7 linked regions of the Homo sapiens genome follow. The protein of the gene in region 4 purifies or fractionates together with the protein of the main gene of each other region. This does not show direct contact. Each region holds a gene or a part of one and is shown on either strand. Other genes may lie near its edges.

What was found.
Region 1: the proteins of FAM53C (region 4) and DCLK1 purify together in Homo sapiens (affinity purification with mass spectrometry, with the first as the bait; one large-scale study listed by BioGRID). This does not show direct contact.
Region 2: the proteins of FAM53C (region 4) and CREB3L2 purify together in Homo sapiens (co-immunoprecipitation; one large-scale study listed by IntAct). This does not show direct contact.
Region 3: the proteins of FAM53C (region 4) and SIPA1L1 purify together in Homo sapiens (affinity purification with mass spectrometry, with the first as the bait; one large-scale study listed by BioGRID). This does not show direct contact.
Region 5: the proteins of FAM53C (region 4) and LRFN1 purify together in Homo sapiens (affinity purification with mass spectrometry, with the first as the bait; one large-scale study listed by BioGRID). This does not show direct contact.
Region 6: the proteins of FAM53C (region 4) and DEPDC1B purify together in Homo sapiens (affinity purification with mass spectrometry, with the first as the bait; one large-scale study listed by BioGRID). This does not show direct contact.
Region 7: the proteins of FAM53C (region 4) and SRSF12 purify together in Homo sapiens (affinity purification with mass spectrometry, with the first as the bait; one large-scale study listed by BioGRID). This does not show direct contact.

Annotation. Positions count from the first base shown.
Region 1 is NC_000013.11:36,110,883-36,114,382, forward strand, and holds part of DCLK1 (serine/threonine-protein kinase DCLK1), read right to left. Parts: intron 1,334-3,500; coding exon 987-1,333; intron 1-986.
Region 2 is NC_000007.14:137,995,587-137,999,086, forward strand, and holds part of CREB3L2 (cyclic AMP-responsive element-binding protein 3-like protein 2), read right to left. Parts: intron 1-3,500. UniProt on the Homo sapiens protein: Transcription factor involved in unfolded protein response (UPR).
Region 3 is NC_000014.9:71,739,093-71,741,709, reverse strand, and holds the end of SIPA1L1 (signal-induced proliferation-associated 1-like protein 1), read right to left. Parts: coding exon 2,549-2,617; 3' UTR 501-2,548; downstream 1-500.
Region 4 is NC_000005.10:138,336,832-138,341,065, forward strand, and holds the start of FAM53C (protein FAM53C), read left to right. Parts: upstream 1-1,434; 5' UTR 1,435-1,476; exon of another isoform or gene 1,477-1,524; intron 1,525-4,234. Other genes in the region: CDC25C (M-phase inducer phosphatase 3), read right to left, coding at 1,125-1,324.
Region 5 is NC_000019.10:39,308,465-39,310,863, reverse strand, and holds part of LRFN1 (leucine-rich repeat and fibronectin type III domain-containing protein 1 precursor), read left to right. Parts: intron 1-2,321; coding exon 2,322-2,399. UniProt on the Homo sapiens protein: Promotes neurite outgrowth in hippocampal neurons. Involved in the regulation and maintenance of excitatory synapses. Induces the clustering of excitatory postsynaptic proteins, including DLG4, DLGAP1, GRIA1 and GRIN1.
Region 6 is NC_000005.10:60,697,367-60,701,471, forward strand, and holds the start of DEPDC1B (DEP domain-containing protein 1B), read right to left. Parts: upstream 2,801-4,105; 5' UTR 2,728-2,800; coding exon 2,680-2,727; intron 1-2,679.
Region 7 is NC_000006.12:89,104,572-89,108,071, reverse strand, and holds part of SRSF12 (serine/arginine-rich splicing factor 12), read left to right. Parts: intron 1-813; coding exon 814-918; intron 919-1,044; exon of another isoform or gene 1,045-1,391; intron 1,392-2,116; exon of another isoform or gene 2,117-2,182; intron 2,183-2,521; exon of another isoform or gene 2,522-2,541; coding exon 2,542-2,645; intron 2,646-2,811; coding exon 2,812-2,953; intron 2,954-3,500. UniProt on the Homo sapiens protein: Splicing factor that seems to antagonize SR proteins in pre-mRNA splicing regulation.

The sequences.
Region 1 (3,500 bases), on a different chromosome or scaffold from region 4:
TGCAGTGGTGCGATCTCGGCTCACTGCAAGCTCCGCCTCCCGGGTTCACGCCATTCTCCTGCCTCAGCCCCCTGAGTAGCTGGGACTACAGGCGCCCACCACCACACCCAGGTAATTTTTTTTTTTTATTTTGAGTAGAGACGGGGTTTCACCCTGTTAGCCAGGATGGTCTCGATCTCCTGACCTCGTGATCCGCCTGCCTCGGCCTCCCAAAGTGCTGGGATTACAGGCGTGAGCCACCGTGCCCGGCCCTAATCAATGTTTTTTAATTCAACTCACCATCAAGGTTCTGTCAAACCTGTACAAAAATAGTCCACCCAAGACAATAAAAGGTGATGCTTCCTTTGGGTTCATCTGACCAACTCACATTAAAATGACCACCCATCCAAGTCAACTGATGTTCATTCTGTAGCTGAAAAACCTCCCTTTCATTTTAACACTGAAAAATACAAGATGCGTACTATTCTAGAAATATGCCTTTAAAGCTATCCAGATGGAAATATGTCATTTCTTAGATACATATTTTAAAATCTATAAAATGTAAGTAAATCTCACTAGCGAACACTACAAAGACTTAAAATCATAAAATATTTAGGTCAAAGAAATAAGTTAGAATTTTCCCTACTGGTCAGAGTTTACTTTCACACCTCAGTCATTCATTCTTCAGGCTATAAGATCTATGAGAAAACTGAAAACAGATGACAGAAAAGAATCATTATGTTAAGCAAATAATAAATGAACAAGTAGAAATCACTGAGTAATTATTTAATCTTCAAAGATATGCATTTTTTTCTTACTTTATTCCTATGAATAATCCTGCTCAACTCAAACTTCTGACTGTTCTAGGGCCAGCAAGTACATATTTGTTGATCAAGTGACCCAGGCCCTTTAACAACTTGAGCAAAATGTATGCTTTAGCCACGTACACCCTCCGACTCCCTGGTTCTTGCCTTAAAGTCAAAGTCACATCACAATATGTCTCTTACCTGTTTCCCATCCAACGTGTACAGGCGTTTCACCACTCCCGAGTCCAGCTTGATGGCATCGGTGATATCGGTGAGGACCTGCTCAAAGGAATGAGCCGTTTTCTTGTTCAGCAGAATCCTGACAGCTTTCCGTGGCTTCACGCCACTTCTGATGATGGTGACCAGCTTGGGCCGAATGAAATCCTTATTCTCTCGCACCTCTGAAGGGCTTCCTTTGGCAGTGGCCAGTGAAGACACTGCCCGAGAAGCCGAGGTGGTCTTGACGTTCACCGACCAGTTGGGGTTCACATTCTTGGTGTACTCCAGTTTCTTGAAGGGCTCTATGGAGCCACATACATAACTCTCTCCTAAGGAAGAGAGAAATATATTTAAATTTATACTAAAATATGCCCATTTCTTTTTTCCTACTTATCCTCTCTTTTGCCTTTTCTGCTTAGGGGCAAGAGCTAGCCCTGACTTTTCAAACAATGGAAGTGTGATTAATAATTAGGGAAAAAGAAAGATTTCTGATTGCTAATCTGGCACTGTCAGCAACAGATCCACATCCTGGAAAAACAAAACAAAACATTATTCCTCCATTTCCTCATCTTAAGGTCGGTGATAGAAATGCTGATCTACTTGAAAAGACCTTAGAGAAGTGTGAAAGTGAATTTAAAATAGAAAATATTCTTTGGGAATTAGAGATACTTAAATCTGCAGAAAATTTCAAAATTGGAAGTACCTCCATTTGCTACCTGAGATAATTTAAACACTAAGAATGAATCAGAATACAGCATCTTAAAATAGTCATATAATTTACGAATTTGATGAGAGTTGATGCTAAAGATTTTGTAAAGCCCAGTAAAGTTCCAAAAGCAAGCAAATAATCACCCTTCCTTTCTCTCATCTATATAGTGCCAATCACAGTGATCCACACATACTATAAGGTCAATTCATACTTGTTCATAAGTAAGAGGTTTTAGAAGTGTTCAACATACAAACTACAGCTTCAAAAATGGGCTCTAAAATAAATATAAGTAAATGTTTATTAAAAGTGACTCCTTAGCAGGAAATCTTTTAATGAAAATAATCAGACTATTAAGTAGATGTAGATCACACACACAAAAAAGAAAAACATGAACCAAGAGACAACAAATTGTAAAATGACGAATTCTAAATACATATTTCATAAAGTTAGGTCAAAGCCTTTTGAAATTAAAGATTTTGTAATGGCTTTTTTTCTGTGTTAATAAGTTTTTGTAACTAGGAATAGGTAAAAATGCTGAAAGACCTTCATAATTGTAGGTAAAATGACCGAGGCCTAATCTAACACAGCCCATTGACTTTTATCTAAGTCCTTGTATTATTTTTAAATTCACAGTGCAAGCATCCAAGGCCAAAGAATAAGTAGTCACATAAAAATAACTGAAGCAGGCCTTCAAAAGTTAAAAAGAGCAGTTATACATGTTACTGAACACTTGTTTTGCAGATGTTCTTAAAATATTCTCTAATGTGTATACATACACATTATGCCTCACTAGAAGTTGTATGAATAGTGCAAGTTTAACCAACCCCATTTCTATTCACCTGGCAGATCATGACTTGTCTCAGCTATGCCTTCCTCAGGATTTAAGTAAATATCAAAAACTTATATGTATTTTTGATATTTTCTTAAATCCTGAGAAAGGCATATTTGGGTACTATAGAAACAGCAGTGTTTTGGGAGTTTTCATGGAGTGATGACCTGCACATGATAGTGGGAAGAGAGAACTGGAAATTCGGGCTCAAGACCTGGCCTCTCCAAGCATGTGACTTTGGACAAGTCCCTCAGATTTCTGGGTGGTAGTTTATTTATCTATAAAACAAAACCTCATTAGGTTTTTCTGAAGATCAAATTAGAAGATAGAGATCAAAGTGATCTCAAATACAAACCTGCTATGTGAGTGAAAATGACCTGAGGCTACATACCCTAATCGTGCAGTAAGCCTGAAAGAAAAATTCAAAAACAAAATTACTAGAAATCGGTAAGCAGGTCTTATATTGAACAGTTACCAGTGGACACCACGTTGGGTCCATGTCAATGTGAGAATGCCCTAACACTCCCCAGTGAGACACACAGCATGTAACTGAGCTGGCAAAGCTAGCCTCTGTCAGAATTCTGTGCTAACTGAAGATATGCAATTGTCTGATTATTTATAAGTTTCTATACTAAGCTAATAACTAAAAGCAAAACAAAGATACAGAGAGCAGTTTACATTTCAACAAAAACTTTAAAAATATATTAAATTAGAAGAGGGAGCAGTTTTAAAGAACATAGCAACATGGAGTGAGTTTGTTAAAAGAGAAAATAAACACTTTTTAAAAATATCTTCTTAGATAAAGCACCCTGAAAATGTTTAAAAGCATAAGAAAGTTCTCCAGTTACACTGAGAAGGCGTTGCTGGTTTGGTTCAAGCAACAATGATCAGAAGAAATATGTGTTTAATCTGAGCTGTAAATGTGAGGCTCCTCTGCTGGATAATCAGATTTAAAGAC
Region 2 (3,500 bases), on a different chromosome or scaffold from region 4:
CCCCCCAAAGTGCTGGGATTACAGGCGTCAGCCACCGCGCCCGGCCAGGGGCTCTATTTCACAACCTCTTGCAACATGAGATAATTTACTTACTGTATGAGCCGATCTGAATCCATTTTCAGTTACTTCTAGCTGCAAGCACTGTAATTAATTCAATTATTAATCTAGATGCTATATCTTATAACTCCTGCAAAAGCAATGTCACATCAGAGACCCCTGTTTCCCATGAACACTGTAACTCAGGGATCATTCGAGAAGGAGGGCAAATATAAAACTCTGTACTGCCCTCTCATCTTTCAGGACTGTGCCTATGTCTACCACCTCCCAACCAATGTTACTATCATGAGAACAATTTCAGAGACAGTAAAATAATCCGTCAAAGATTTTTTGCTAAGCCAAGGGAAATCCTCTAGATCATAGACAAATTAGCAACACATAAACAAGGCTGCCTTATGAATAAGAGCCACATTATGAAATAATGGAGGGCAGTGAGGGTTCCTCTCCCATTCCCCAAATATTCGCCCACTACTACCTGGCTATCGCCCTAGGTTCTCCAAGTGGAGATTCACCCTTTTGACCTGAAGTAATTATTGTTAAATATAAATGCCCATTTAGGGTTAACATGTTAAATCTTACTAACACTAAAATTTCTAGTGAAAGCTTATCAAATCTTTCCTGACAGCAAAATTTGAAGGGATGAAATTGGAAAGAGAACATTACAGTGAACACTTGATGTCTAAGAAAGGAGGGGAACACAAAAGGGGCGAGAATGTTGAAAGGTGCCACAAGGGTCTGGAAAAATTATACTTACTTCCCAATTCTGTCTCCCGTTAGAACTCACTACATTTATTCAGCTTGTGGAGGTCATGTGACCATAAGTAATAACATTCTCAGCCAATGAGGACCCGGGTGCCCCTTCAGAACCTGGCCTGGGGCCAACCCTAGGAGTTAACTCCAAAGTGGAACATCAAACCAAAAGCTTCAATATCGCATTGAAATCATATCACTCTCCGGGCCAGGCGGGAGGAACAGGAAACCACACAGTCTGTGAGATCAGCCAACTCCTTTTCAGCACTCAGTAAGACATGGAAGCCAGATGGCCTTTCCATCTGGACACCAGGCAGGTCGAATATTCCCCCAACTCCCTACCTACCACTGTCTGGGACCAGTGGTTTCACTTGAAGAACCAACCAGATATAAAACTGTATTAGCATAACCACCAAATGATTTTACAAATAACTTGGCTTTATAGGAATTCTGCATTTTAAACAAGCAGAACTTCTGTTGTTACTTTCACAAAGACTTAGTTTTTATGATACACTTTTTTAAAAGGATATAATCATGGCGAAAATTGCAAAAATTGTTTTATTTTCCAGATGGCTAAACTGAGATAGAAGAAAGGAGAACATTATCAAGATCTTGATGTTTATCATGGGCAAACCACCTGCCAACCTCTCCCCCTAAAGCCTCTTTCCATGGGGCCTTCCCACTTCCCCTGTTCTTCATCCAACGCCTCCACTGACCTTGAGTGGTGTTGAGTTTCTATATAGTACTGAAGCTCCCTTTTTCCCCCAAGAACACTTGGTTGAAAATTACCTCTAGTCCAGTTTTACATGGTGCCTACAAGTTGTATTTCTTCCATTTTCTAGACATAGTGACGAGGTAAAAATCTGAATAGTACCAACAGGTATAGTGTGTAGACATGCTTCCCTTCATCTCTTGACTTCCACTTCCCCAAGCTGCTTTCCCAAAAATTATCCACTTCTTGAGCATCCTTCCAGATACAGTTTATACATATATAAAATACATTTTAAAATTTATAGATTATTTTGCTCTTTAAATTGCAAAAGGGGGCTGAGCACAGTGGCTCACACCTGTAATCCCAGCACTTTGGGAGGCCAAGGCAAGAGGGTCCCTTAAACCCAGGAGTTGGAGACCAGCCTGGGCAACATACTGAGATCCCGTTTCTACCAAAAAAAAAGAAGAAAAAAATTAGCCAGGCATGGTGGCACACACTGATACTCCCAGCTACTCTGGAGGCTGAGGTGGGAGGATCACTTGAGCCTGGAAGGTTAAGCCTGCAGTGAGCCATGATTGAGCAACTGCACTCTAGTCTGGGTGTCAGAACAAGACCCATCTCAAAAATAAAATAAAATAAAATAAAATAAAATAGAAATTACAAAAGCACAGACAATTCCCAGAAAGTAATTTTCAGAGAATTTTATAGGAATACAATACAAATGGCAGAAATGTCCAACATACAGGCAGGTCTGGGGAAAGAGGCAAGGTTTCTTCTCACGGTGGTACCGAACCCCAAGAGATATTCTCCTGATTTCTAGATTTGCCATCTTTTCTGAACCAATTTTAGCCTGTATTCCATCTTGAAGCAACAGCTTTCCTAAAATCAGTACTCACTGAATTAAAATAACATTTCATCATCTGTATGGAAACAATTTTTTAAGCTTCAAGAGGAAGCCCAGAGCTTTAGCAATTCAGGATCTAATGATCAGTCCATCTTTGCCCTATCCATATGCTTCATTATTTTGTAGACTCTGAACCTGTCTGCCTTTGTCCTTGTAGACCAAGATGTCTTCATAACTAACCAAATGAAAAAAAACATTGCTCCTAACGGTTAACAGAAGGCTCCTGAGAAACATCATAATCTCAGCCTTGGGTAACTTGAACATTCTAAATTGTTTAAATCAAGTATGTGACAGGTTTGCTAAAACAGAGCATTAGCAATCATGCATGTAGTAACTAAATCCCTAGTAAGAGCAACAAAAGTGATCTCACTAGGAAGGTTTGGTGGCTGCCACTGTCAGCCTCATTTAAACATTAGCTGCTTTCAGGCTCAGCAGTTCCTATATTCCAATCACTCTCTCCCAACCTCTTATTCAGTTCCTTCTCTTTAAGTCAGGATTCTTCACTCAGACAGCCTGATAGGCAAGTACTTGCAGGCAGGCAAACATGGGTTTGAATCCTGGTTCTATCACTAAATAGCTGTGGGAACTGAGCCAAGTGGCTTAAACTCACGAAGCCTCATTTTTCTTATATGTAAAATAAAAGTAATAAAAATGGCTCATTTCACTGGGTCATTACAAGGGTTAAATGGCATAATATTTGTAAAGCACTAGACACAATGTCTTTCAGCAGGACCAGCTACGTAATTTGTGAAACCCAGTGCAAAATGAAAATGTAAGGTCCCCAGTTCAAAAAGAATTAAGATTTTCAAGATGGTGACAGCACAGCATCAAACCAAGTGTGGACCCCGTGGCACTGCATGGGTGGCAGGCCATGTGGTCAGCCCTGCCTTTCGGATGATAAACACTCAATAGATGGTAGCTGTCATCATCTCTTACCACCCTCACAACTCGTATTTGAACCTCACCCTCCCCTCAGGCTCTCTTCAACTTGGAAAGTTTTATGAAATCATTCCAAAAACAGGCACTGGTGTCTCAGAAGCACCCAGAGTTTATAAGACAAATAACTCACCAAAATGA
Region 3 (2,617 bases), on a different chromosome or scaffold from region 4:
AACGTATAAGCCCTCCGAACCATGTAGGAATCATGGTCTAAACAGACCTTTTTAGCTTGTTAATTGGAATATTTTGTGGCATCCATTCTTATGCTAGTCCAAGAACTCTGGAATCTGTAGAACTGTTGAACCAAATAAAAGGAAGAAACTCTACTGTCAGCACTCAATTAGCTGCGCCGCTGGAGAGGAACAGTGACGTGGTAGATTAAAAAAAAATTGGTTCGGTTTGACTTTGGAATGCACTGATTTTTTTTTCAGTAGATTAACTTTTCTAATTATATTTTGCACAGCCTAATATTAACAGGCATTTGTATTCCCTGGGCACACAACATCTGACATTGAGAGCTGGGAGATGCAGCCCAAAAATGTGCTGGTCTCAGAGAATAACAATGTTATGAAAAATCCATGCGTGGATAATGAAGGGGAAGCTAATTATGAAGTGCTCTGCAAATATTAAATCATAAGCAGAGAAGGCAAAATAGTAATTCTCTATCGACATGTGGACAGAGTAAAAAAGTTTATTAACATTCTGAGAAGGACAGAAATTTTCAAGAATCATCATTAGTGTTAACAAAGCTTGATGAAAAAATTCGGATGCAAGGAGGGTCAATGAGTTATTGGGTGGTCTTTCAAATAAGCAAACCTCAAGCAATAATACCAAAGTGTTTTAAAAGAGCGTTTAAAATGAATTTTATTCTTTGAATTTTACAGGTAGTCTTTAGAGGCTTCAAACAAGAACTCTGTTGCAAAACTCTAATAAATAGCTTGCCCCAAGTCCCCAAACAAAATGTAAAACAAAATGAGAACTAAACTCAGAAGGATAAGCAAGACTTCAGAATGCTTGGATGTTAGCAATATTTCTCATTTACAAAGAGATATCAGGCAATGTACAATCTCCTTCATACAAGTCAAAGAGAGAAAGAGACAGACAATTGAAATCTTCACAAAGCACTCCGAAATCTTCCTATTTCCATGATAGAAATGTCACCAGAAAAAAAAAATTCCATGGAGAAATCACAATCAAGAATGAAACTGTAGCATAAAAATCTGGTAGTGAATGTAGCAGGGAGAAGAGAGGAAAATCCATCCTGTTTCTTTCAGGGATGGAGAGAGGAAGGAATTGAGATTACTTGGGTGAGGGAACTTCCAATCAGATGCCGCTAGAGTGCTGAATGTTCCCTTAGACCAGAGTTGCCACTGAAAGGGCAGAGGGGTCGGTTTAGTGACAGTTATGAAGGCAACAAACAAAGGGGTCTCCTCAGGTCAGTCAACACTGGCCAGCCCCATGTCTCTGTGCTCTACAGCAGCCTTGGAAGAGTGACCCAGGGGCCCAAAGCAGCCTGCATCACAAGACAGCAAAAATAGCACATCAATAATTTCTGCAGCGGAATCCTTTGGATGGCCATGAAAGGATGCAGAAAATGCCGTGCTGAAATTTCACACTGGGACATGCAGGTTTCAAAAGCCCATTCTAGTATCACAGTCATTATTCCTAACAAGCAATGATTAAAATTCACAATTAAACATTCACTGTTAGCTTCTCCTAGTTACAAATACTGGTGAAGTCTTGCTCTGGAGAGAAAGATTAATTTAGAGATATGGTCATTTTCAGCAAGCTAAAAAAACCAGTTGTGCCACATTTTTATCTTTAAAAATCTTTAAAACGTATACTTTTGACCAAAATGCATTCAAAATGCAGACAGATAAGGTTTTAGTTTGGGGGAATTCTGAAATCAATTAATGTTTGGAGCCAGGAAGCTGTAAGAGAGATTGATTCCAATTTAGTGGGGCTCAATTAAGCCAAACAAAAAAGAGTCTTGCAGCACAAGTGGGACCATCTTCCTGGGGAAAGGGAGAAGCAGGAAATGACCTCACAATGCAGGACTGAGAAGGGGTGTGGCCTGCAGGCACTGTCAGAGCTGCTCTGGTTTACAGACTTGCTGTTAAATATTTAACTCCGGTCCTGCTGATCTCTGGAGGACAGGTACAGACAGCACTAGCTCATGCACGAGTCATTCAAGGGAGGTAGGCATTTTCTCAAAGCAACTCCCTCTCCAGGCATTTTAGGGAAGAAGGTAAGGAAATATCCCTCTCTACTCCCCAAACAAGTTATAAAAACATTCTTTTTCTAGGAATAATGATATTTGTTAGAATAACAAGGGAAAGCTTGGGTTACCTGAAGTTGATAAGAAAGCTGATGGGAATAGAGGCGGATGGGCCAGGGGGCGCCCTGGTCCAAGGCCCAGTTTCTTCTTAAATACATAACAGATAAAGATATTGTGCAAAAAAATAAAGACATTCACATTTTAGCAGTTAAACTTTTATTTTACTGTTTAAAATTTTTATTTACTTTTTTTGTTTTTCTTTTCTACAAAAGGCAGGTGATGATTGTTGATCTGCAACTATTGTGTTGTGCACTCCCCGAAAGGGGGCAGAGTAGGAAGCCAGGGAAGGTGCTCTGAGGATGCTTTCTATGGAGGGAATAAGGGCTGCAGGACACTCACTGGAGGGAGTGTCTGGGCCCTTCTCCTGTCCTCCTCAGCCTTCCCTAGCTCATGTCTATGGTGTTGAAGACCCATTCTGTGAACTTCTTCAGCTTGTCCGAGGCGTTCTGGGA
Region 4 (4,234 bases):
TCAGTTAGTACTGTACCTCATTTTTCCTCTACTCTTTTTCAGTTTGTAGACTTGGTGGCTCCTGCCTCCTCCCCTCCCTGGCTCAGTGAGGACGACCCCCGCCACTGGCTCTACTTTCCAGCTGATCACAGCTATTTACCTGTCCCAGTCTTGAGTAAGGCACAAAATATTTACAGAAAACAGATGTCTTTCAGAGGACTTGCTGCTAAGTGTAATAGTGAAGATTACTTGCATTACTGCTACTTTCCAATCAATTAAAAAAAAGAAATAGAAAACTTTGTATTACAAAGAGATCACAACACGAACGCATTGTTTAAAGCCTCTCCTTTATCCACTTTTTTGCTTGTCTCCCTAAACCATCTGTGATGCTAGCTGAGACTCGAATTTACATAAGAGCCAGAAACCATCAACCCAACCTCTTCACACACTAACGTCTACATTCAATCTCTTTAAAAAAGACTTAAATTTTGGCTCATGTGGGAGGTGGTGGTAGTGGTGGAGACTTAATAAAAGGTGGTTTTGTCTTCCTGAAGTGGAAATATAGCGCCGTCAACATCTTTTCCCCATCTGCCTGTTTCCTCCTTCCCTTTCTGTTTAAGGAAAGTCTAACCACCGCACTTCTCCCCACCTCCCCGCACCTCCCCCCAGGCAAACGCAAGCAACTGAACCGCCTATGATGTCATAATCACAATCCCATTACCTCATCCTGCTGGGGGGGAGGGGGCGGAGAGAGAAGAGAGGGAGTGAACAGCCCTGGGCTATCCTGAGCTTTACAAAGTGTTCTGGGTGAGGGCAAATTACAGAACCAAGTGGAAACGTCCCCGCAACCATTATAAGTCCTGGGTTTTTAAGGTTCAGGCCGATCCGGCAGCTGCAAGAGGGGCTCCTGGGACTCCGAGCAGGCCCTAATCCGCGCTTGGACCACACTTCCCAGCAGCCTTCACGCCGCGGACGGGTCCTTTGCTGGGGGAAGGGGGATTCCTTCGAAGAGGTGGTCGTGGAGGGCGGGGCAGCAGAGCAGGTGAGGGGCACTGTGGCTAATTGCGTGACGCGGCCCGAACCGAGTGGGAGGCTGCAGTTGGGCCGTTGGAGGGAGGGAGGGCAGGGGCGATGCCTTTGTTTACCTTCTTCCGACATGGCCTCCCCCGCGGGTTTCAAGATGTGCCTCCAACTGGGGCCGTCCACTTTCTGCGATATTTTGGAGGGGGTGACTCGTTAGTGAGGAAACCACCCCCATCCCTAAATCAAAGCGCCAGGCTCGTTCCCAACAGCGCTGTCCGAGAGACACTTTGAGAGAGACACGACACGGAGCTGCGCCCTCCATGGGTGGCTTGGGGGGATTCTGCGAGCCGGAGCTGTCCCCCTACTCTCCTCAGGGACTCGTTGGTTCGCGCCAGCGCCTTTTAAGGGCACCGTGGGGCGAACCGAGCGCTCAGAGCTGCTCCGGCCGCGGCCCTGGGAGCTGGAGGAACCGCGGTAGGTGGTGGAGGGCAGGTGGCGCTGGGGCCTCGGGGCGGGCACCTCAACCGTCCCTCCCTCCTTCCCTCTTTCCCCTCCCCCAGCCCGACCGCCCGCGCGGCCGGGCCTCGCTGGCCGCCTCTGCGGGGAGAGCACGGGACCCGGTGGGGGAGGGGGTGGCGGAGTGCTAAGTCCCAGACCCTCCCCATCCCCTGCGTCCTGAGTTCGCTTCCCGCGGCCAGATGATGGAACCTAGTGGGAAGAGGCGAACGACAGCCCCCCTGAGCGAGCCCTGGCGCACCCCCCCCCCCGCCCCGGGGACCAGCGGACGCCCCATGCCCCACCCCGCGGGGACAGGCAGGGCAACAGAGGGAGAGGTTGAAGATTGGAGGGGCCTAGCCTTTTGCTTCTTCATGGGGGTGGGGGGAGGGGTGTTCCCCACTTGTCACCCCTTTCCCCACCAGAACCATATGGAAGAAGAGCAGGCAGATCTCCACCTACCTGTTCATGCAGCTCCCTGCCTTCCTCATGTTTTTCTTCAGTCTCCCCAGGAGGTGTGGGGCTGGGACCTGAGGGGAAGGTCCCCAAAGGGTTTGTGACTCTCCTCCCTGTTGGCCTGACCTGATCCTACCTTGTCTTGGTACAGCACAACCTCAGCATCCCTGAAACAGGAGTGTCAGGGGTTACTGCCATCCAATAGGAGATGGGGTGGGGGTCTGATCTTTATTTTTGGGGGCTGCTGGTGGAGGGAAAGCCTGGACTGAGAGTTAGGTCTGGTGGGGTTGCTGAGAGGGCCTAGCGGCCTGCTGCTCTGTGAAGGGCTGAGCCCCGTGCCAGTTGTTAAACTGAGAAGTTTTAACTTGTTTAGTGAATATTCAGGGCTGTCTCTACCCTTCAGATACACAAAATGGAAGGGGAAGGAAGGCGGCAAGAGAGGGCTTCTTACACTTTTTTCAATGCCTGCTTGAGAAAGAGGAGGCCCCTCGCGGAGCTGGTTTGCCTTCTTTTGTGTCCTGGTTTGATTCCTTATGGCTTCCGTTCTGTTCCCCCTCGCAGCCTGGCCTGTTTTAGGAAACTCAGGCTGAGAGTATCAGTTGCGTGGTGGTAGTTGCATTGTTCCAATTACCACTGTGTGTGGCCACATCCCAACAATTAAAATGCAGAAAAACACAAATTCACTGTCTTGACTTGATCCTAGAGGTGGCTGGGAGTTTGCTGTTTGTCCAAATGCCTCATGAAAAGCTGGAGAGTTTGCTTCATTCCCTGCTCCTCATAGCTGGTTAGCCTGAGGCCTGGGGTCTCTAGGGTAAAATCCTGCACTTAGGTTCCCTCTCTGGTTGATCTTTGAGGGCAGCAGAGTTAAGAAACCAAGAGCAGAAGTGATATAAGCTTTAGCTTCTCCCGTAAGAATATAGGGGAAGCAGCTGAAGAGAGCTCCCCGGAAGCTAGAATTTTGTTCAGGGTGGTAATAATTATGCATGAAAATGATAGTTAACTGTAATGATGATTGACTTCTCTTGCACCTTTCTTCCAGAGAACTCCAGGTACATCCAGGTTTATCTCTTTGCTCTTCCTTGTGCCCTCCTTCTAAGGTGTGAGTGGGGTAGAGATAATTCCTCTTTTTTGTAGAGTGATCTGCCCCCAAGGTCACAGAAGGAAGAGCCCTCTTGGGCTTTTCTTAGTGTGCAGGTGAGGGAGGATGGTATTCAGCCAGAGAGATGGACCCTATTGCCTTCTTCATCTTATTGATTTCATTACTTCTGACATTCTGAGGCCTTGAAGATTCACAAACGGGAACGAGAAATGGTAGTCTGTGTGGACTCCTGATTTTTATAGGTCAGATGGTACATTTTGTACATTTTAATATGTTATATTGTTCCTGTGACAGGTTAAGATTATTCTGCCCACTTTACATATGGGTAAACTGAGGCCAAGGAGTATTAAATGATTTGTCAAAACTCTTAGCAAATTGGATTAATAATTAGATTTCTTGATGATTTGTTCTCTTGACTAGCTAATGCTACACACATTCTCTGGTAAGCTGTCAGCTTGCTGCTCATTTCCGGGAATAGATAGAACAAAATCAAGACACTGGCTTAACCTCCCCTTTTCCCTTGAGCAAGGCCCCTCAGGTAATTGTGTGGGCTTGAAGCCTGTTATCTGATACAGTTAGTTTGCTTCTATCAGAAGTTGACCACGAGAAAGAATCTTGGTTAACTGTATCCATGGACTTTGCATCAGATGAGGCTAAAAACTTAGTTGAACAGTCATGGAGTTGTTGTTTACGACGTCTGTAGAGTTGAAATGTATTGGAATTACCCTGACCATTTCTTTATCTTCCCATTTGATAAGAAAACAAACACTGTATCTATTGGAAAACAATAATATATCAGATGTTTAGGCTGTGGGAGGACATAAAATCCTATGTACTCAGGTCTAAAGCAGAAAGTCTTGCCTACAACCACTGTTCTTCCTTGTTCTCTTATTACTATTTCTGTAGTTTAGGAGAAGGGTACCTCTTTTCACTTCTGACTGGAAGATAAAATACTGGGCTGATCTTGATGGAAATAATCATTTGGGCATCCCTCTCTCTCACTTGAGCAGCTGTTTTCTAAGTGGTGCTGGTATTCCAGTTAGAAACAACAGAGCATGAACCAGTTTAAGGGTAGCAAATAAGTTTCAACTTGATTGCCAACTCTATTTTATTTCATATCTGGACTGCCAAGTTCATAATTTCTGAAGCTGTGTTTAGGCTTAGCTGGAAAGAGCTGTGATC
Region 5 (2,399 bases), on a different chromosome or scaffold from region 4:
GGTGGCTCTTGGTAGTGGGAGAACCTCCTGGAGGTGGGATGACAGAGGTGGAGCTTCAGGGCCAGAAGGTGGCTCTGCTGGAGGGGAAGCGGAAGCATCGGAGAGATAAGCAGGCCTTCGGAGGTGGGGATGTGGCCTGTCAGAGGGGGTGGAGCTTGTTCTGCATGGTCCCACGAAGAGGAAGGGGCAGTCCTTGTCTCCCGGGACCCACCAAGAGTCTTTGCTGGAGAAGAGAGCTTGTGAGGTTGCATCCTGGCCATGCCAATCAATGTGGAACGGGCAGTCCAGGTTTAGCTGAGGCTGGACATGGCCCACAGTGTGGAAACGATGTGCTCAACAGAAGAGGGCCAAGGCCTAGCAGGAATGGCCCTCCAGAGGGGTAGATCTTATAGATGGGAGGAATGCAATGGGCTGGATAGTGTGAGCCACAGCAAGGGTTACTGGCCAACACGAGGTGTGATGCAAGCTAATGATGATATCATTAAGTGCCAGGTCCTGGCTGTGTTAACTCATTCATTCCTCACACCATCTCTATGATGTAGGAATTATTATCATCCCCATTTGGGGAAAATGAGACACAGGGAGGTTAAGAAACTTGGCGAAGTTCGCCGGGCGTGGTGGTTCATGACTGTAATCCCAGCACTTTGGGAGATCGAGGCGGATGGATCACCTGAGGTCAGAAGTTTGAGACCAGCTTGGCCAACGTGGCGAAACCCCATCTCTACTAAAAATACAAAAATTAGCCAGGTGTGGTGGTGGGTGCCTGTAATCTCAGCTGTCCGGGAGGCTGAGGCAGGAGAATCACTTGAACCCGGAAGGCAGAGATTGCAGTGAGCCGAGATCGCGTCATTGTACTCCAGCCTGGGTGACACAGCGAGAGTCTGTCTCAAACAAAACAAAATGAAACAAAAGAGAAACTTGCCTGAGGTCACAGAGCAAGCAAGTGGCAGAGGAGAGACTCAAACCCGGGCAATCTGGCCCCCAGCCTTTGTCATCTTAACCACTTCTCTACACTAGTCTTCATTCGAGGGGAGGGGCCTACAGCAAGAAAGGAATATGGTGTGTGCTTGGCTACGTTTGACCCCTTTACGGAAGAAACTTACCTGGTAGCGTGATTTGGTGACTTCTGGTGGCACATGAACATATGAGGTGGTTGCCTTTAATATCTGGACAAGGAGCAGGGCCTGTAGTCTGGATGTGGCCTATACACAGTAGGGGAACCATCCTTAGTGGGCCATTGTGGGGTGTGCCTGGAAGCCACATTTCATTTGGTTGGGGAATGGCCTGTAGCAATGTCAGGGAACATGTAGTTAAGGGACTTGGAAACTGTTCCAGGACATAGACAAAGCTAGATGGTTTTTTTTTTTTTTTTTTTTTTTTTTTTTGGTTTGTTTGTTTTTTGAGACAGAGTCTCGGTCTTGCGGTCTTGTAGCCCAAGCTAGAGTGCAATGATGTGGTCTCGGCTCACTGCAACCTCCACCTCCCGGGTTCAAGCGATTTTCCTGCCTCAGCCTCCCGAGTAGCTAGGATTACAGGTGCCTGCCACCACGCCTGGCTAATTTTTGTATTTTTAATAGAGACAGGGTTACCATGTTGGCCAGGCCAGTCTTGAACTCCTAACCTCAGGTGATCCACCCTTCTTAGCCTTCCAAAGTGTTGGGATTACAGGCGTGAGCCACTGCAGCCGGCCAAAGCTAGATGTTTTACCCAAAGGTGCTGCATGCAGATAAGGGGGAGCGACCTGCATCATGGTTTTCCCTGAAAGGCAGGAATATGTATAAAAGAGGAACTAGAAGAGCATCCATTGTTCCAGTAGGAATATGACAGGCGCTGTGAGCTGACCTTAGTGTCCACCTGAGTGGGGGATGGGGCATGCAGAAAAGGGGAGGTGGCCAGTAGCGTTGGCCCAGTTTTGGGGTAGAAATGCCTAGATGAAGGACCTTGAATGGCAGTTGTCCTAGCAAGAGTGAGACATAGCTAGGGAGCATGTCCCTTGAGGGCAGGGCTTAAAAGCCATAGCACTTCTCCCCTGCAGGGGCCGGGATATGCAGAGGAGGTAATACGAATGATAGATATATTGTCCCAGTGGGTGATGGGACACAGCCAGGAGGTGGGTCTGAGGGCGGGGCATACAGATGAGGGGTGTGAAAGGGTGGGAATATGTTGATGGAGGCGGGGCTTGAATTGCTGCTGTTGTCTCAGTAGCGGCTGAGACTTCGATAGCAGGGTTTAGTCCCCACTGTTCACCATGGGCGGGGCATAAAGCGAAGGGGCGTGGTTCGGGGGGACTAACCCCGCCCTGAACCCGCCCCCTCCTACAGGATGATCCCGTCCACCAGTCAGACCTTCCTGGTGAATGACCTGGCGGCGGGCCGTGCCTACGACTTGTGCGTGCTGGC
Region 6 (4,105 bases), about 78 Mb from region 4:
TTGTATCCCAATAGATTTTTACCAAGCTTCCCCTGAAGAAAGTTTAGAATGAGCATGATGGGAAAAGGGAGAAATTGTATGCTGCAGATAGAGGGAGGAAAGGCCAACTAGGTCCAACAAGTAAAAAGAGGACTAGTCTCAAACTATTAAATATATGATTTACCTAGCAAAAGCTTTAAGTCACAGCTGAATTACACTGGGGAAACAATTACAGACTTTACAATGGAAAGAAGCATCTTCAATGTTGGCTGCAATCACTGACAGCAGGAATACTCACTTTTGAAAAAAAAAATTGGCTATTGTTTTCTGTTTTCCACATCTTAGTTTAATATTATGTTCCTCAAACACTATGAAGTTGAGAACTGAATTGATTACCTGGGAAATTCTGGTGAAACTGAGGTGTTTGTTTCATTAATTATCCATGTCATTTATCTTCTTAACTTAATCAACCTAAATTTAGCCTGAATATTATTTGTTAGGGACTGAAGACTTCTAGAGAGCAGAGAGCACCTTTTTTTAATTAAACAAATTCCTTTGATAATATTTTAATGTGACTCAAGAATCCAGCACTATCTATATATGGACCCTCTGCATCCATGAAAAGAAGTACCTCATACAATTCTGTGAATATGAGACTAAAATACAATTCCAATTATGAGGTATTTTTTTTTTAGTCTAATGCAGGAAGAATGAAGACTAGTCACGTCAAGAACCACAGCCTTGCTATGTTTTCCTTGTGTAAGTGCTGTAAATAAATTGGTGAAGGGAATGATCAAATGCCTTATTTTCCTCCCTAAAGTTAGACTTATCAATATTCTTGACCCCAGATCATTCTGGTGTCTATACTGTATAGAGTGTTCGCAAAGATGAGTGCAATGATTCTTCCCATCCTCTCCACATGCACCTCTGTGGCTTTGCCACCCTGCCCATCAAGAAGTGGAGTTGAATTTCTAGAATCTGGATTTAGCTGTTTAACTTGCTTTGACCAATGAGATTTGAAGAAAAAGTCACAAGCTGAAACTTCCTTTTAGCTACGTTGGAACCATGAGACCACTACGTGAAGATGCCTCCGATAACCTGTTAGAGATATCTGGCCCAGGTAACAGCCAGGACCAAGTCAAGCAGCCATCTTCCATCATCCAGTAATAGCCAAGTCACATTATTTGTGGCACATGAGTGACCTCCACAAAAGAACCATTGACATGAGTCTAGCCCAGATTACTGATCCAAAGGATGAGCAAATAAAATGCTTGTCTTTATGCCAAATAAAACAATGTCACAGACTCTCCCAATCTCCTTATTATTTTTTTTTTTTTTTGAGATGGAGTTTCGCTCGTTGCCCAGGCTGGAGTGCAATGGCGCGATCTCAGCTCACTGCAACCTCTGCCTCCCAGGTTCAAGAGATTCTCCTGCCTCAGCCTCCTGAGTAGCTGAGACTATAGGCGCATGCCACCATGCCCAGCTAATTTTTGTATTTTTAGTACAGACGGGGTTTTGCTGTGTTGGCCAGGCTGGTCTCGAACTCCTGACCTCAAGCGATCCATCCCCTTAAATCATGTAAAATTTCATGAGTATGTGCCATGTGCAGTTTTCTGTGAAGAAGATCCTTAATCTTCATCAGATTCTCAAAGCGATCTATGAGCCAAATTTAAAAAGTAAAGACCCATCAGCCCCAACTATGATTTCTCTTCCAGAAGCTGGCCTTCTCAGCTCTGGCTTGACTTACTGGTATAGTGTGTGGCTGGCTTTGGAAAGAAAAGGAAACTCTATTTACATTATCTGTATCCCAGCATCCTCACCTCTTCCATGAGTCTAGCTGAGTAAGAGTTTGGATGTTAGTTCCCATCTTTTCCTGTGTATTCATTATAATGCATGGAACTATGAGAGTAATTCCCATGTTAAATGTGGCCAGAGAGGTCGGCAGACCAAGGAGCAAGTTACTGTCCTCCCAAATTACCATTACACTTCCACAGAAAGTCCTCTAAAAACTTGCCACAGACATTACCAAACTGTCACCCTTTATTGTTCCAAGTCAAAGCAGACCAAGTACACCTCAATACCAAAGCTTTTCTCCCAGAAAAAAAAAAAAAAAAAAACAGGAACTCAGAGTCGGCAAAGACTCTCCTAAAACATCTGTCCTGGCCAGCTCTTCATCTGGATCGGTGCTGACAGAAACAGAAACGCCAGGGGCCGGAAATGCGGCCAGCGCGATGCCCCTCTGTTCTGGGCACCGTTTATTCGAATACCCCGTCAGGTATCATCAGGTGTCACTCAGGAAGGAGACACGCCCTGCCTGGACTGCCGCGAACGCTGAGCGTTACGGGGTACGTGGTGGCCCCTCAGGTTACCGACCGGGTCGGTTAGATTCCAGAGGACAAAAGGCAGGGAACAGCCTGGTCTTGGGGTCTTTAAACAGAGAGGCGCCATCTACTGCCGAGAACCCAGTCAACATCTCATGGACAAAGCTGCACTAACCCCCGGCCGGCTGAGCTCTGGGCCCCGTTAGCCTTTCTTTGAGGCTCGTCCACTAAAAGGCAGCCCCAGTAGTCCCAGCTGAAATGCTCCACACCCGAGCCCCGCTGGCCTGCGGAAGCGAAGACTGACAAGCACTCTGTCCGCGCGCTGAGTGGGGGCTCGCGGCACCGGGTGCTCCGCCCAGGCCCCAGCACACTCACTCACCAGCCTGGTAGCTCGGTACGGCCCGGGCCCCACGATGCGATGCTCCATGGCGCGTAGGCAGCAGCGGCCGCAGCCGCGCCAGCGCTGATCCCCGCCAGCCGGAGGAGCAGCAGTTTGAATCCCAAGCCCGCGGGCTGCGGGCGCTGATTGGGCGGCGCGGCAGCACGTCACCGGAAATGCGCGGGGAGGCAGGCGTCTTCTCCGAGACCCGCGGCGCTGGGAGCTCCGCGTGCGAACTTGCCCGGGGCGAAATCTGTTGCCCACCCTGGTCCCACCGTGCGAGCACACCTAGGCAGGTGCGACTAAGGGGCCGGGGGCGTCTCCCCAGCGCTGGAAAACGCTGTGCAGCGCCCTTCCCAGATTTCTGCGTCCGCGCAACACAAACACACGCAACGCTATCTCTACAAAAGGGTCAATAATAGGTGTTATCCAGCGACCGAAACCCAGCTTTGGGCCGCGTGGATAAATACCTGTCCTCCCTACCAAGTGCACTGTGAGCCTGGAGGTGCTGCTAACGCTGGGAGAAGCGGTAGTGAAATGAAGCGAGGCGACAGCTTTTACCAGTGTAGGGACATTTAAAAACGGGATAGAGAGCACAAGGAGCGTAGACAGTGTGTTAAGGGCAATAAAGAGCGGGAAGGGAGCCCCGATTCCTCTTCTGTTTGTTCTCATGATAGTCTTTTCCCCTTTAATTTGAGTTCTATGTTTTGTATTGGGCTGATACTTTTAGTCCTCGGCAATAGGGTTGTGAGTCCTTTTTTGACTGCTTAGAATTTTCCCCCTGGGAATTGCTAGTCCGATTTGCAATCTTTCAGAGGGACAAATGAAGTAACTCCATATACTTAGGACTCTGTACACCTACTCAAATTTGGTCATCTCGGTAAGTACCCAGGACAAGACGTTGAAGGAGTGAAGGTGTGCCATTCCAAAATATGCCTAATTGGTATATTGATTATTTCGAGCGGAAAACATTGGAGAAATGGTAGTTTCAGAAAGGGCAAGCTGACCTGCCTCTTCGATGCAGCAGGCCACAAAGATTTCTCTGGGATGGGCATCCTCTCCCTACCACGGTGAGAAAATAGCCTTTATCACCAAAGGCTTGGAATTGAAGGCTGCAGTGGACCTGAATAAACATTCTTAACGAAGTAACCCTATCTTCCACTAGGAGATATAGGAGATTTTTTACATATATCTTCTAGTGACTCCCTAGAAAATGTTACTGCCTTTGTGAGCTGTGGAAGTTAACTCGAGTCACAGGGCACCAAAATATGTTAGCAGCTGCCCATATCCGAGACACGGCCCCAAAGTATGTTACAGGCAGTGAATTCCTACAGATCTGCAGCAACCTCAATTCTTGACTCCTCAGAAGAAAGAGTTCGACTGAGGGGCATAAGGCAAAAGGAGAGACCAAGGCAAGTATTAGAAC
Region 7 (3,500 bases), on a different chromosome or scaffold from region 4:
TAAAACATCCATTTTTCTTTAAAGCCTGATAAATAATTTTAGGACTTCTTTAGAATCTAATTCTTGCTATCTGAAAACAAGATTAACATAAACATGAAATTAAAGTGAAGCAAAATGAATGTGTTCTTAGTGAAACAATTACTTATTAGGTCTTATAATAACTTTCAGAGGTGGATATGCTGGGTCAGTGTTTCTGGAAATTAAGCATAACAACCACCTGGAGTGCTTGTAAAGATACAGATTTCCAGCCTCTAATCCATACTTCCTGAATCAGAACCTCCAAGAGAGGTCTGAGAATCTAGGGAGGTTTTTTTCGTGTTTTCTTTTTTTTTGAGACAGGGTCTCACTCTGTCACCCAGGCTGGATGGAGTGCAGTGGTGTGATCTTGGCTCACTGCAGCCTCAACCTCCCCATGCTCACTCAGGTGATTCTCCCGCCTCAGCCTCCCGAGTAGCTGGGACTACAGGCACACGCTACCACACCTGGCTGATTTTTGTATTTTTTTGTAGAGACGGGGTTTCACCATGTTGCCCAGGCTGGTCTTGAACTCCTGGGTTCAAGTGATCCACATACCTTGGTCCCCCAAAGTGCTGGGATTACAGGTGTGAGCCACCACACCTGGCCTGAGAATGTTTTTTTCCTTTCTTTTTTCCCTTTCTTTCAAAACCTTGCATGATTCTTACAAAAAACAATTTTAGATAATGCTGGTCTAGATGATGTTCTTTCTTTTGAAGGTTTCAAGTGGATTTCTGTAGGCAAAATATTTTAATCCAGCTATTCATATTTCTTTGCCTTATTTCTAAAACACTTCAGGCCTGAGGACTTGCGCCGTGAGTTTGGTCGATATGGCCCTATAGTAGACGTTTACATTCCACTTGACTTCTACACTCGCCGCCCAAGAGGATTTGCTTATGTTCAATATCCTTTATTTTATTGTGTGCATGTGAATATACTGTATATGCGTGCTTATACATATATGTATTCAGTAGCATATGTTATGAGATTAATATTGCCTAATTAAATGTGTTTATTTCTTTATCTCAGAAGATCTAAAGCAGTCCACAGTAGCTGGCAAGCACCCCCCAGTTTGAACCAACCTGTTAGCTAGAATCCAAGCATAAACCCAGCAGGCGAGACAAAAGGCACCTAAAGTTCAAGCATCAAGGAGTAAAGAGGGAGGGTGGACACAGATATAAAGACCTGGAAGAGGGGAAGTCTTTATCAAGCAAAAGACAAAGCCAACACCAGGTTGAGACTTCGGCTTTCCTACATTTACTCAGAGTTCCAGAGTCAAAGCCAAGTCTGATTTTGTTGGTTCTGCGTCTCTTATAAAGTCCATCTTGCAAGCCTTAAAGAGTAAAGGTCAAGGTTCAAGATCAAGTGACATTGAGGTAATTGCCAGTCTCGTTTTATATTGTGTATCTTGAGCTTTTTCTGTTTGTTATTTTTTTAATTAAACCAGTGAACAACCTCCTAAAAAAAGTTACTTATTTTTATATAGCTAATTTCCATTATAGCTAGGTTTAATATTATATAATTTATATACATAAGGAAGTTTAGTGGGATATTACAAACCAGTATATGTAATTCCAGATATTTACAGATTGCTTTTATGTTTCTTTTATATTTATATCCCAAGTAGTAAAAACATAAATGTTTGGCTGGGTGCGGTGGCTCATGCCTGTAATCCCAGCACTTTGGGAGGCTGAGGCGGGTGGATCACCTCAGGTCAGGAGTTTGAGACCAGCCTGACCAACATGGTGAAACCCCGTGTCTACTAAAAATACAAAAATTAGCCGGGTGTGGTGCCGGGCACCTGTAGTCCCAGCTACTTGGAAGGCTGAGGCGGGAGAATCTCTTGAACCTGGGCTTACAGTGAGCTGAGATCGCGCCATTGCACTCCAGCCTGGGTGACAAGAGGGAAACTCCATCTCAAAAACAGAAAAAAACATAAACATTTAAAGTGGTAGGTTCAAAAGTAGATACCATTTTTAAAGCACTAAATCCGGTTTTGTTTTAACTCACTTGTATATGTGCAGTTTTGTTTATAAGTAATCTCTCTTAAATGTCAAATTTAAAATTAAGCCTTTTAATGAAAGAGTAATTTTAATTTCAGAATAAAGGCTTCTGCATGCTGATATTCAGTGAAAAATCTGATGGATCCTTTATCTGAAAGAAGGGAGTGAGTCCTAAACAGTTTGTAATTTTATAATGCTAGCCAAATTTGGACTTTTTTTTTGTTTTTCTTGTTTTCAAATTATACATGCATACTGCAGCCACACTATTGTAGACACTAAAAGTACAGTTACATGTTTGTTTTGTTCTTTTTATTTTTAGACTCACTCTTCTAAACATAATGGGTCATTTGTTTTCATGAGAAAAAGTGAAAGTTTTTTTTCTGATTATTCATATTATATTGAAGATGTGAGCTTAATAACTTGAACTTGATTTTCCTATTAATTTCATTTCACATGTAAATAATGCTTTTAAAATATGTTTACTTGATATCTCATGTTCAAAGTGTCCTTAACAGCTAGTCATATTTGAAGATGTTCGAGATGCTGAAGATGCTCTTTATAACCTCAATAGAAAGTGGGTATGTGGCCGTCAGATTGAAATACAGTTTGCACAAGGTGATCGCAAAAGTAAGTGTGACTGAATGCTAGATTTTATTTATTCAGCAGAATGAGTTTCAGTGATGACTGATTTTTTAATTTAAAATTCTTTCAGTAAATGATTGCTAGTTGAGTGGTTGTTACTGTGGTGTTCAGGTAACGAATTATGTCATAAGTCTTGTTCTTTATGTTCCAGCACCAGGCCAAATGAAATCAAAAGAACGTCATCCTTGTTCTCCAAGTGATCACAGGAGATCAAGAAGCCCCAGCCAAAGAAGAACTCGAAGTAGAAGTTCTTCATGGGGAAGAAATAGGAGGCGGTCAGACAGCCTTAAAGAGTGAGTATAAGAGGACTGAAAATTTCATTTTCTACTTTTTCTGGGAAATAGATATATATTTTTTTGATAGGGTCTCATTGTTTCCCAGGCTGGAGTGCAGTAGTGTGCGATCATGGCCCACTGTAGACTTGACCTCCTAGACTCAAGCAATTTTCTCACCTCAGCCTCCCAAGTAGCGGGTACTACAGGTGTGCACCACCACACTGGGCTAATTTTTTTAATTTTTTGTAGAGATTGGAGGTCTCGCTATGTTGCCCAGGCTGGTCTTAAATTCCTGGGCTCAAGTGTTCCTCCCACCTCAGGCTCCCAAAGTGCTAGGATTACAGGTGTGAGCCACTGCACCCAGCCTGGAAAATATTTTAAAGTTTTTATAAACAGTCCACCTTAGTCATTTTGCTTAATGTACAAACATAATCAATTTTTGTTAAAAGATAACACTCTTCTCTATTTATCATATATTGTTATTTAACTTGGGTTTATGGGATTAATTCTTCTGTTAAAGTTACAGACTTAACTTTATCTTTTTACATGAGAAGATAATATATAG